Regions from separate parts of the Homo sapiens genome. Here all the other regions are reported to be linked to region 1. The links are microRNA targets in miRTarBase. Many come from high-throughput screens and were not tested one by one. Region 1 holds a microRNA gene; each other region holds the end of a gene's coding sequence.

Region 1 (3,119 bases):
AGTTTGAGTAAGTACCTTTTCATTTGATGCTTTTCTTGTGCCTAACCTTAGGAAATCCAGAATAGTATTTGACAGAAATTATGTTTTCAACTTGCCTTTGACATCTGTCCCACTGCATTTTGCTTTAAAATTCTTTATTTAACAATAAATTATCTAAAAAAATAACAGTAGCAAAGCAAAAAGTACTCATCTTTAAAGACAGACTCGACGGAGGGACCGGAAATCAGAAAAACATCAGGGTTGTTTAGGAATTGCAGGTGCAGGAGGAGAGAACAGGAGTGGGGCGGGCTGGGGGCAATGAGAGAGCAAGAAGAAAAGAAAAATAAAAAGAGAAGGAGAAGAAAGAAATGGGCTTTTGCTGGGTGCAGGCAGTGACATTTCTCAGGACCCCTTATTTCTCCCTGTGCCTTCCGGAGGGAGCAGCCCAAGGCTCCTGGGAGGACAAGCAGCACGTGCCCGCCGGCAGAGCTCAGCTCCAGCTGGAGGACCCCTTTGTGGTCCTTGCGCACACTGGGTTTTCCTTCTTCCCCAAATATCCGACGCGTCCAGTCCCTTACTCCTTCCCCAGGCAAAACCTCCTCACCAGGAACAACCTGAAATCAATTTACACTGTAATCAAAATAGCAGAGGGTGGAAAGTGTTTCCTTCGAGGAGGGGACTTACGCTTCAAGTAAGGATTGAGCACCCTGGATCCTTAACTGAAGAGTGAGGTCAGAAAGGGCGGACGCACAGCAGCAAACGGGGAGGAGGGTGCTGTCCAGGAGCCGCTGACTTTTCCCTTCAGGAAGCTGCCAGACCATCTCTCTCTGCTAAAGGCTTTCAAGATGATACCCTTGAGTGTTGGGAGCAAAGGGACCAGGTACCTGTTCCTCCTGGCTCAGAAGATGCTCTTGACAAAGTCTTAGGGAGACCTCAGCTTTAAGTTGTTTTATCTGGCAGCGGGATTTTAAATTTTGTATTCATTAGTTGGCTGGTTGGCTGGTTTTGTGGCTGGCACCGTGTGAGCCGGTCGCTTCTTCAGTGCCTCTGTGTGATGGCAGGTTAGGGTGAGTGTTTGGTCTGTGGCCAGCTGGTTCCTGAGACGGTCATGGTTTTGGGTAACAGGAGTGACGGAAGGGTGTACCCAGACACACGACGTAGCTGGTGAGGAATCTGAATTCGAGAAGTGCAGAGCGAGGCTCTGGAACCAGACAGTGGGTGGAACCCCACCCCACCACTCACCCACTGTGTGCAGGAGCAAGTCACTCAGCTCCTGGGCCTCCGTTTCCTTATCTATAATTTGGACCTATTAGTAATAATAATAATAAAAATAATAATACTGAGGTATAGATAAGTGTTTGATAGATAGGAAGTACCCAATGCATGTTAGTTTTATTACTGTCAGCACGTGTGTGTGTGTGTATGTGTCTGTGTGTGTGCATCTGTGTGTGTGTCTATGTGTGTGTCTGTGTGTGTGTGCATGGGTGTGTCTGTGTGTGTGTGCATGTGTGTGTGTCTGTGTGTGTGTGTGTGTGTCTACAATCCTCCTCCCCTGAAGATTCCATGATGGGAATCACACGGGTGTATCACAACAGAGAACTGAGGTCCCTCTAGCACTTCCACGGTTCTGGAACATCCTGCCCCAATCCCCTGTCCCCAGGAGGTGGCAGCCTGCCCCCAGTCCAGGGAAATTGGAGTGAGTGCTCCTTCTGTGAGAAGGCCAGCTGTGGGACCTGTCTCGCGCCCCATTACCACCTTATGAGCAGACCTGTGTCACAACCTAACACAACCTCGACTAATTCCCCAGAACCCAACCCATCTGAATGGATGCATAAACACACCCTGAGCCCCTCTTGGTTTTGGAAGTTACTAGCTGAACACTGACGTGCCCCTCCTGGTTTTGCTGTCATGGAGCTCTAACCTGTGTCTAGAATCCAGAAGAAAAGACTGAAGTATAAAGGAAAAGAGAAGGGAACAGAAGAGAGGGTGAGAAGGTGCACAACCAGTGTAGACCCCTTTGCTGGAACCCTTCCTTGCCAGCTTCCCCACCTGTCGCAGAGAGGCTTCCACCAGTAGCCACAGAGGGTGAGAGTCTGGACTGTCCAGCCAGGGCCTGGACCCTGCCCGAGGCCTCTGCCCATGCTGGTTATTGTGTGAATCGTGTTCCAATAACTGAGAGGTGTCAACACGGCCCCGCTTCGGGGGGACCCCACCTCCTGTCCTTGAACCTTCTTGAAACACACCTGGAGCTGTCCCAACCTGTCCTCTGTTTGTCCCCTCAATTTTAGCTCTAGGAGACAGGGCCATCAGCCCATGCGCCTCACAGGCCACCCCTCTTCCCTTGTATTCCTGCCTGTCTGGGTGCCTCCTAGCCTAAGGGTCCCTGGGGAGCCTCTACCACCTCATTAACTCACCCTGCACACCTCCTCTGATCCTTCTGCCTCTGCATGGCCCAGCAGCTTTGAAAGTCCTTCCTTCACACCTGCTGATGGTGTTGCTGACAGTGTGGCCAGTGCCCTGTGGCCACAGGACACCGGAAACACCTGCCATGCCAAGGTCTCGGAAGAAAAGCCAAGCCGTGGGGGCCGACGGGGAGACAGAGAGGGTTGGAGAGAGGAGCCCACCGTGGCCTTCCAACAAGGGCACTGTGATGAAGTGAAAGGCAAGGGGTGCAGTCCCAGGACGAAGACAGTGCGTGGGCGTTGGGAAGGCAGGGGGAAGGGAGGTGCTGACTTTGATTTCAAGAGCTCCTAGCAACCCATGGGAGTGGGCATTGGTTTCTTCCATGGTTCAGGCAGAGATTTCGGTCCAGCCAATGACAGAATCTGCCTAAAATCTTGCAGAACTAAATGCAAGAGAAATATGGAGAGTTTTGTGTATCTCCAGAGACTCATTGGCAGCAGCACACTCTCTGGCCGTGAGTCATTAGTGGGTCCCAAGGGAGCAGAGCATCAGGAGTGAGGGGGTAGCCCTTGTCTGGGCCAGGTCTGGGCCTCCTGGGTCATAGATGAGGAAGGGGTGGCTAGATGGGATGACTCCATCACTGTAGCCCCGAAGATGCTATCGACACAGAGACAGTTACCAGCTGGCCTCCTGAAGGCACAACTTGAGGTCCCAGGCCTGGAGGAGAGTGTCCTAGG
Region 2 (3,117 bases), not on the chromosome of region 1:
AGACTTCAGCCCACACAACTCTGCCTTCCTGACTCCAAACTCCCTGGTGCATCTCCCCCTGGCTCTGCCAAGATGGCAGCTGGCCAGGTGCGGTGGAATGGGAATGTTGCCAGGCTACCCCACCAGGGAACTAGCCTCCCTCCTCTCCACCCGGCGCTGACCCACTCCTAAGTCAGCTGGACCCACTACGTCCTCTGAAGTGGCTTCCTTCACTCCAGTTCTTCCCAAAAGGATGCGGCCTTGGCTGCCTGTGCCCCGGGCCTCCAGCCTCTGAAAGGTCAGTTCTATCCCCCGCACCAGGGCACAGGTTTGGTGGGTGTCCTTGGGGAACAAGGTGTGGCAAGGACACCTGGTGGCAGGCGTCCTTGGGGGAACAAGCTCTCCCCTCACCCAGTGCCCAGATAGCAACCCCCTCCCCACTGCCCCGCATCCTGGCTCCTTCATCCTCCTCTCCTTCCTCTGCATCCCATTCTTGCCCCCAACCCACATCTCCATTTACCTCTTCCCCGCTCCCGAGTCCTTTTTCCGCCTTTTCATCCATTTCCCCTCCCCCACCCCAAGCTCTCGGGCAGCCTCTCAGCTGGTCTCTCATCTCTCTCCACCTCTGCCCCGTCTCTCTCGATCTCTCCTCCTCGCGCTGTTTCTCTGTGCCTGTGCGTCCCCCTCGCTCCTTCTCCAATCATCTCTCATCTCCCTGTCTCTGCACCCCTCTTCTCCTCACCCCAGTGTCTTCTCCCATTCCCAGTCGCTTGCTGCGCCCCTCCCCTCACTCTCTCCTAACTCTGCTCTCCCCCTCCAACGCTGGGCTTGGTTTGCATCTTTGAGGAACTCCCTCCTACCCCAACTCCCTCCCACGGGGCTCCCGCATCCTCCCGCATTTAACTCGGACCCTCTGTCCCGCAGCGCCCCTACCCCAGGCCGACTGGACTGTCCGGGAAGGCGCCGGCGGGGAAGGGGAGCCCAGCGCTGGGACCAGAGCACTGCGGGGAGGCTTTGCCCGGGAGGAGTAAGTGGAGGAGTGAAGTCGGGACTTGGTAAGTTCCAGGTGGCAGGAACCCACTAGGTCCCAACATCTGATTCCGGCTAGGGTCCAGAGTGGGGAGACAGGCAGGGGACTTCTAGGGTCTTTCTTGGAAACCCTAACTCTCAGGTCCAAGTCCTGTGGAAATGAACACAAGGTTGGCAAACACATGGCGCTCAAGCGACCCTCTCCCCTCCGCCGAGGCCCGAGGCGGCTTCCCCTGGCATCCTGCAGGGCACCGCCCCTTCCCTGCAGGTCCAGGCCGCCAGGAGGGGGCGCTGGACGAAGCCGGTCTGCACCAGCAACTAGTGCTGAGGGAGCTGTCCAGGCCCCAGGGCAGGGAGGCTCCCCGGGAGAGATGGCTCTGCCGCCAGACCCACAGGGGAATGACGGGTGTTCAAAAAATACCAGGAGTCTCCCTCACCTGCTCCCTGCCAAGGGGAAGGGAGACGCCCCCACAGTGGGTGGAGGGGGGAGAAACTTCTCACCTGTCCCCCAACACACACACACACACACACGCTCACACGCGCACACACACGCACACACATTTCACCCACATACACATACACTCATGCCTCGGCTCCAAGCACTGCCCATAGGTGCAGACCCTGGGCATATCGCAAGGCGAGAGGTGGGCCAGGAGGAGGAAGAGGCTGGGACAGGGTAACAAGGCTTAGGAAGGGGGACAGGGGTACCCTGTTCAGAGATGACCTGCAAGTTCAAGTTATGCAGAAAAGTATCAAAGAGACAAGACAGTCTCTGCCCTTGGTAGACGCCTGGGGTATGGAGGGCATGAAAAGGGGCAGAAGGGGTAATGCATCCCCCAACTCCCCACCTCTGGGGTCCCCTCCACACCCCCAACCCTGACAACAGGGCCAAGAAGTCTGTGCTGTACAAAACAGGCCAGGGTCAAGGGTCCAGTCATTGGTGAGACATCCCAGCAGAGAGGAGGCCTGGGCAAAAGAGGCCAAGGTCAAGGGCTCAGTCATCAGTGAGATGTTCCAGCAGAGAGGAAGAGGAGGCCAGGCCAGCCCGGGCTGAGCAGCTTCTAAGCTCCAACTGCCGAGGCCACGTACCCCCTCCCGCTACCTCCAGAGCCTGAAAGTCTTTTCTGACTCTGGGCTGATCAGGGCCCCGGTCTGCAGCTGACAGCAGGGCCCTGTGCATCCCTCGGTGCAGCTCTCCCTCAGGGTGAGCTGGGAGCAGGCCGGAATGGAGCAGAGGAGGTCCCAGGGGAGACTGGTGGCACCTGGAGCTTTGTGGCAGATGTGGTGGAACCAACATCAGCCAAAAAAGAAAAAAAAAAAAAGTAGGAAAGAGTCCAGCCCACCCTGGAGCAGTATCTAGAATAAATTTCTTGAAGAGGCAGGGACCAGAAGAGGTGCGGATACAGCCAGGCGGCAGCCCTCCAGACTGAGGGGGCCTGGGGAGCTGGAACTACAGCTCCGCTCTCCCTGGGGATCTGCAGGGACCTCCAGGCCAGTCTAGAGAGGAGAGGAGAAGCCCAAGGGCCTACGCAGATGCAGGCTCCCTTAGGTCAAATTGAGGGAGGAGCAAGAATTAGACCCTCCCAAGGTTTGGAGGGCCTCTCCTCTCCCCCAGGCCACATCCAGGCTTTCCTCTCCTCAAAGCCTGGAGCTTGCAGGGTAGTCGGTGAGAAGTAAGTCTGAGATCAGGGTCTTCCCTCAGAGCTTGAATGGAGTGACGAGAGGGCAGAAGGCAGGACAAGCTGAGGTCAGGCCAATTACTGGGCTGTGATCCTGGCCTTTCAGGGTCCCTGTGAGTGAGCCACGGGGCAGGGAAGGACTCCCCATCCAGAGACATCACCCCCGGGCCGCAACACGGAGCTTACTGTAGAGCCCACAAAATCTAAGAGAGAGAGAGAGAGAGAGAAGGAGAGAGAATTAGAGAAAGTCAGAGGCTGCCTGGGCATTCAGGCTTTCCTTGCACATTCCCCAGGGCACAAGTGGGCAGAGGGGCCGGGCGCGGTGGCTGACGCCTGTAATCCCAGCACTTTGGGAGGCTGAGGCGGGTGGATCACTTGAGGTCAGGAGTTCAAGACCAGCCTGATCAACATGGCACAACCCTGTCTTTAC
Region 3 (3,119 bases), not on the chromosome of region 1:
TGTTAGCAGTAAACACAGCTAATTTACCCCCTGCCTCTTTGAAACAGCTGCTGACAGCTGCACTGTAATTCAATCAAGGACCTTTGTAGTCGAGCCTACCAAATTCACATGTGTTGCTTGGTTCCATCTCTCCTGCCCGGAGCCCCACACAGCTGCACCAAATATTGACGAGCGGCCACTTCCCCGCAAGGCCTGGATGCTAAACAGAGCGTTCACGGTGGAGACGAAGGCAGGGAGCTCTTAGCAGTGTGAGAGAACTTCAGTGTCCAAGAACTGAGAGAAAAACACAACACACACAGACAGACACAGGCCAAAGAGCCAGAACCAAACGTCTCCTTTTATTGCAAGGTCAAACCCTTTTCATTTTGTCTATTTATACAGAATTTTCACTAAGGACTGCTCGACGCAACAGCTGTGAGTACATTGGTCCAACCATTAATAAATAGTCTTAAATAAGAAAACAAACAGGTTGAAGGAAAGCAAGCTCATCGTCCTGAACGAGGGATTAAAGGGGGGGGGGTGTTCAAAAGAGCTTTGGATGGAAATAAATAATCTCTTTGCTTTGTAACAACTATTTACAGGTTTAAATGTACAAATGATGCTAACCAGAGGCTGGTTGGGTCAGAAAACTCACACCAAGAGGGATCACACAAAAAGCCCCAGCTCTGCCAGCAAATGAAACCAAACATAACAAAAAATACTCCTCCCCAGTGACTAGAGAGTGGAGGCTGCAGCCCAAGCTACTAAAGAAGAAAAACATCAAAGAAAATAAAAACAGAGCCCCGGTGTTTCCAGGAACTGTCTGAGTCAAGATGGAGAAACAGTCCCCCACAAGACCGGGTTCCACATGGCCACAGTTTTCGATCACCTTGTTTTCTTTACAGATGCAGAAAACGTTTGCAGACAGTCTAGCCCTCCCCTAGGCCTTGTGTTTGTGGCCGGAGGCTGAGTGCATACTATTTATGGGACTCACCAGCCAAGGCAAGGCAGGCTTACACCAAGAGCCACGTCAGAAATGCCACCTCCAAATCGGGACACTTGGTTAGGATGTCACCCTCAACAAGGCTTCTATTTGCAATGTAAGTCCAGCACATCCTGCACCCATCAGACCTCCTATTATGCCATCTCCCCCTTAATTCAAGGAGCAAATTTGTTTGCAGAGACTTCTGATCAGGGTCTGCAAATGAAGAGACAGCCACGGGTGCCCTTGCCAGGGCCCAGCCTTGGAATGCCACTGCAGACAAAGACCAGAGGGTCCACTGGGGCGATGTGCAGTGCTCCTGCTCACCCCACTCCCGTGGAGAACTAGGCTTCATTGGTGCTGTTTTTTTTTTCTTTTGAGATGGAGTCTTGTTTTGTCACCCAAGCTGGAGTGCAGTGGGACGATCTTGGCTCACTGCAACCTCCACCTCTGGGGTTCAAGCAATTCTCCTGCCTCAGCCTCCAGAGTAGCTGGGATTACAGGTGCGTGCCACCATGCCCGGCTAATTTTTGTATTTTTAGTAGAGATGGGGTTTCACCATGTTGGCCAGGCTGGTCTCGAACTCCTGACCTCAAATGATCCGCCCACCTCAGCCTCCCAAAGTGCTGGGATTACAGGTGGGAGCTACTGTGCCCGGCCCATTGGTGCTTCTTAACAACAGGGTTGAGTTGCAAGTTCCATCCTACTTGCTGTCCTTGTCCCCTCTGCAATTTCACATGGATTTACTACCACTGGGGCGAGGTGAAAAGCCAATCCCAAATGTCTGCGGGTATTTCACACACCTAGTTTCATTTCTGCCACGGCAAATCCAGCTGAACAACAGAACATATTTTTCCTCCAAAGATCAACACACCGCCCTCCTCGGAGCAGACATTTGCTCTTTCCCCTCCCACTAGATCTTGGATTTGGGCAAACCTCGGTAAACACTGGGCCTCTGCAAGCCTCAGGATGAAAACTGTAGGGAATGGAGAGGGACCTCCCCGCCCTCCACTTGACACAGCTTCTGTTTACGCATCAGGATAAACCGAGAAATGGGGATAAATTGTTTAGGAAAATATATCTGTAACGTCCTAACCATTTTCATTCATTCGTTTTATTGTGACATTTATTACAGGAACTTCCGGGTCAATTTTCCTTTCGCACAGACACCAATGTGCCCACCCCTTGCCACGCCCCCTTCCTCCCACGGCTGGGTGGCCTGGCTGGTAGGCGCTCATAATTACCTCTGGAAACGAGTCCGTGCATGGCTGAGACTTCCCAGCCAATGACCTGGCCCGGCCATTTTTCTTTATGCGTTGTTTTTTTTTCCTGCTAGGTTTTGCCTGCACAGCTTGTAGGATCTTGTTCATTGGATGCTGCCACTGAAAAACTGATCAAAAGCCATATGCTGCTCATGTTTCCTAATACTCTCACACCTTTAAAGTTGGGGATAGGGAGGGGAAGGTCTCACAAAAGGCAGTTGGTCTGCTGGTTCCTGGCCAAGGCGAGCAATGGAGGATCCAGAAAAACTTGGCCCCAAAGGGTCTGAATTCTCGGAGGAGCTAGTGGCAGCCACAGGCCCGGACCACCATGTTTCTGTATTTCTTCAGGATGACGTTGGAGCTGTCATCGAAGTAGAGGACGGAGATGGCATTGAGCTGCGTGGGCGCACAGCAGGGCTTGGGCACCGTTTCCGGGTTGATGAAGTGGACCTGAAACACACACCAAAACATGGGCAGTGGTGAGAAGCGGTGAGTCGTTCTAACTGGCCTCCACGTTTCTATAAAGAAACATCCTGTCTGGGCATAATGAATGACTGCAGGTGACACTCCCCAAGCCAAGCACTCCCTGTTCTAAGCACTTTACATGGACAACTCAGTTCTGGGATTATCCCTGTTTTGCAGACAAGGGAACCAAAGCATAGAGGTTTTCACATTATACAGTGGGGAAGGAAGGGGCCAGATCCGACATTCAGGACCAGGTAATTCTCTGTTGGGGAACTGCCCTGTGCACTGTAGATTGCTGAATAGTGTCCCTGACTTGGACCCACTAGAAGTGCTCCATCTTGCTCATGGACTTCTCTGCACCTTACAGAGGATGTGGGACAGGGACACATAGACTCAAATGCCTATGAGTGCCACGTGAGTGCCACTGATAA
Region 4 (3,119 bases), not on the chromosome of region 1:
GTAATTATGTAACTCTTGGATTATTTGAGGAATAAATGGGCACATAGTAATAAAATGTTCATTTTTAGAGCTTTTCAGTTTATTTGGAAGTTGCTATTCAAAAGAAGTCTTAATCTGTTAACCTTTTAACCTTTTAATTTTTGCAGTACGAATGTAAAGTTATCGCAGAAAAATCTCATCAGGAATGAAGAAGGCAAAAAATATCTTTTGTACAGAAAAGCAAGATGAAAAGGATGTGAAATGGTAGATATACCAACAAAACTTCAGACTGTAAAATTGCCAGGATGCAGTTTTCCCCTTGATTGGCGTGTGTGTATATATGGATAAATATATATATACACACACACATATTACTGCAATCTGTGATTGCTTCATCTGTAAATCAGTTGTAAACCTTTACATATTTGACTTAAATAACTGTAAGATATATATGTACTACATTAAAAAGTGTTGATTAATAGATGAAATTTTTAAATTAATTTTTTAAAACATGCCATACATTGTATCACAATGTTAATGTGCCAAGATATTGTTCCTGTCATGCAGAGTATAAGAATGCTTTGAACAATTTGTAGACTTAGTGAAATAAAATAAGAGGAAAGCCAAAAACAAACAAACAAAAAGCATATGGGGAGCTGGTATTTTCTCTTTAGCTTACTGTTGTGCCTTTTTATTTTTCTAATCACAGCAGTATGAGTTATGAGTGCCCTAATTTGTGGTTAGTTTCTAATTTAATGTTGTTTCATAGAGTTTGGAGTGTTTTGATACAGGGTGAAAATGAACTTCTGGTTTCAAACCTGCGTTACTGGAGACAGCCCAAAGAGTAATTTTCTGTTTTGACAGGTTTTACTGGAAGTATATGTGATGAGCAGAAGAGGTTATCAGCATTAAATTGTTTTGGTTCTAAATTTGGAACAGTATATATAATTAAAAGTAAGGAACATTAGAGGATTTAATTAGAATAAATACATGTTTTGGAAATACAGTGACCTCTTGCAGTGTCACAAAAGTGCAAAGTGATATTAGCTGTCATCTGCAATACAGAATCTCATTGCTTTTGCACATGGAGCATATAGGAAACTCCAAACAGATCACAATGAGGTTTCTAAATCTGTTGGGTTCTGTCTTCTATTGGGTTCTGTGAAGCAAACCACTGTAGCTTTAGCTGGGTTCAGTCATATGACTCGTTGGTGGAATGCCTAGGTTTTTCATCTTACATGCAGTCTTGGGGGTGGATGAATACATAATTTCTCATGTATTCGTGTATCCATTAGTGAATAGTTCAAGTCTGTTTAAGAGTGTATTGAGATGGCATTCTCTGCATGTTAAAGATCTTAATGGCAACCAGCACCTCTTAAGTATGGTTTAAACATATTCTTAGCTAATTTTTTCCATTAGTTTTTGAAATTGGTGGCAGTTGTCTGATCCACAAGGGCAAGATCTTCTGAGTACTCTGGGGTGTGAGTATGTGTGCACACGTGTGTGTTGGAGTGAGTGAGAGAATGTGTCTGTGCATGTGGCCATGCTTTCCTAGAATGTCAAGTAGATATTTTTACACTTTGAGTTTTAAAGCAATTACTATCAGACTGAGATCTTGTATGCCAAACTTTAATCTGCTTTTATGTTTTCAGGCTGAAGGTGTGAAAATCCTAAGAGGATTTCATATTGAATATGTGTACACAATCTTAACTATCGTGGTGGAAAACATACTACTATAATTTATTATTATATCTTCCAGATAATGTTATTCATTTAGAACAAATAAGGTATATTTTTTAGAATCAACTTTGTAAGCACTATAAAATCTTTAATAAGTTATAAGGTCTATGATGTGTTTACTTTAAAAATTGCTGTTAAAAGCAACACGTATTAAATATGTAATTATCATCTGGGTTAAGAGTCTGTTTTTCTTCTTTGTGGTAAGTCTTAGAATATGGTACTGTGGATTAATCTAATGAAATTAACATATGTGGTTGAAGTTACCAAGAAACGATGAAAAGAAACTAAATATAGTTGACCCTTGAACAACAGGAGTTAGGGGCACCACTCCCCAACATAGTTGAAAATCCATGTATAACTTTTGACTCCTCCAAAACTTAACTACTAATAGCCTACTCTTGATGGGAAGCCTTACCAATAAGAAACAGTTGATGAACACATATTGTGTATGGTATATGTATTATATACTGTTTTCTTACAATAGTGTAAGCTAAGGAAAAGAAAATGTGTTTACTCTTCATTCAGTGGAAGTGGACCATCCTAAAAGTCTTCACTCATGCTATCTTCATGCTGAGTAGTAGGCTGAGGAGGAGGAGGAGGAGGGGTTGGTCTTGCTGTTGCGGGGGTGGAAGAAGATGTGCATTATTAGTGGGCCCACACAGCTGAAAACCATGCTGTTCAAGGGTCAACTGTGTGTGGTATCGGTGAGACTGAATGATTATCGTTGGTGTTCTTAAATTATTTTCAGGTCCTCTAGAAAATAAGATAATTATAGCAAAAAATAAAATTGTTTTGAAATTTTGATAAATATATAAATGTATAGAACCTATTTTTTTCAATGAAAGAAAATGGGAAACATTTTTTAACATTGCTAGATTGGCAGTGCTTTCTTTTATTATTTCAAGTTATGGAAATTTGCACAGTTGAAAACTGGGGATAAATTCTACAAAAGTGCAAGAAAACAATTCAAATTAGCCAGAGCCCTGCTAAAACTTTTAATGTAAAATTTATTTATTTGCACTGAGCTGTTTTACCTTCTTTAAGGCCATTGGGACCTCTCAATGATGCATATGTTTCATACATCTTGTATTTTCCAGGTAGAAGTCAGACTTGGTTAATACCAATAAATACTTCTGTAATCCTATTGGCTCAGTTACCTTTATAATGAAGTATATTCTGTGTAAGGTAATTCTTCCAGTGATGGTCTGAGTAGTAGAGTCTTAGCTTTGTGTGTCTGAAAAGGTCTGTTTCATTCTGAAGAATAATTTAGCAGGCTGTAGGATTCTATGTTCATAGTTTTTTTCCCTCCCTCAGCACTTTGAAGATTTTTAACTCATTGTCTTCTGTCACCTAATGTTACAGATAAGTCTGCCATTACCGTAATTTTCTTTCCTTTGTAG

The links. Region 1 holds the annotated microRNA hsa-miR-8089 (CCUGGGGACAGGGGAUUGGGGCAG, at 1,617-1,640, opposite strand). A microRNA usually pairs through its seed, bases 2 to 8, with sites in the 3' UTR of a target mRNA and lowers its output. Matches are read on the target gene's strand: a 7mer-m8 pairs with bases 2 to 8, a 7mer-A1 pairs with bases 2 to 7 and ends in A, and an 8mer does both.
Region 2: miRTarBase lists LHFPL4 as a target of hsa-miR-8089. Seed matches in the 3' UTR shown: 7mer-m8 at 2,476-2,482, 7mer-m8 at 2,445-2,451 and 7mer-A1 at 1,858-1,864.
Region 3: miRTarBase lists BMP7 as a target of hsa-miR-8089. Seed matches in the 3' UTR shown: 7mer-A1 at 1,411-1,417.
Region 4: the mRNA of INSIG2 is a reported target of hsa-miR-8089. The part of its 3' UTR that is shown has no 7-base or 8-base seed match.

Annotation. Positions count from the first base shown.
Region 1 is chr5:181,041,797-181,044,915 of GRCh38, forward strand. MIR8089 (microRNA 8089) reads right to left here and starts at 1,688; the gene lies at 1,607-1,688. All of the region lies in intron 1 of BTNL9 (butyrophilin like 9), which reads left to right.
Region 2 is chr3:9,499,422-9,502,538 of GRCh38, forward strand. It overlaps LHFPL4 (LHFPL tetraspan subfamily member 4), which reads right to left. Exons shown (of 4, transcript NM_198560.3): 4 at 1-2,890. The coding sequence ends at 2,790. Among named protein-coding and RNA genes, the nearest start is that of LHFPL4, 53 kb to the right of the region's middle. RefSeq lists an enhancer at 1,905-2,630.
Region 3 is chr20:57,168,436-57,171,554 of GRCh38, forward strand. It overlaps BMP7 (bone morphogenetic protein 7), which reads right to left. Exons shown (of 7, transcript NM_001719.3): 7 at 318-2,673. The coding sequence ends at 2,524. Among named protein-coding and RNA genes, the nearest start is that of BMP7-AS1, 44 kb to the right of the region's middle.
Region 4 is chr2:118,108,135-118,111,253 of GRCh38, forward strand. It overlaps INSIG2 (insulin induced gene 2), which reads left to right. Exons shown (of 6, transcript NM_016133.4): 6 at 147-2,863. The coding sequence ends at 188. Among named protein-coding and RNA genes, the nearest start is that of INSIG2, 21 kb to the left of the region's middle.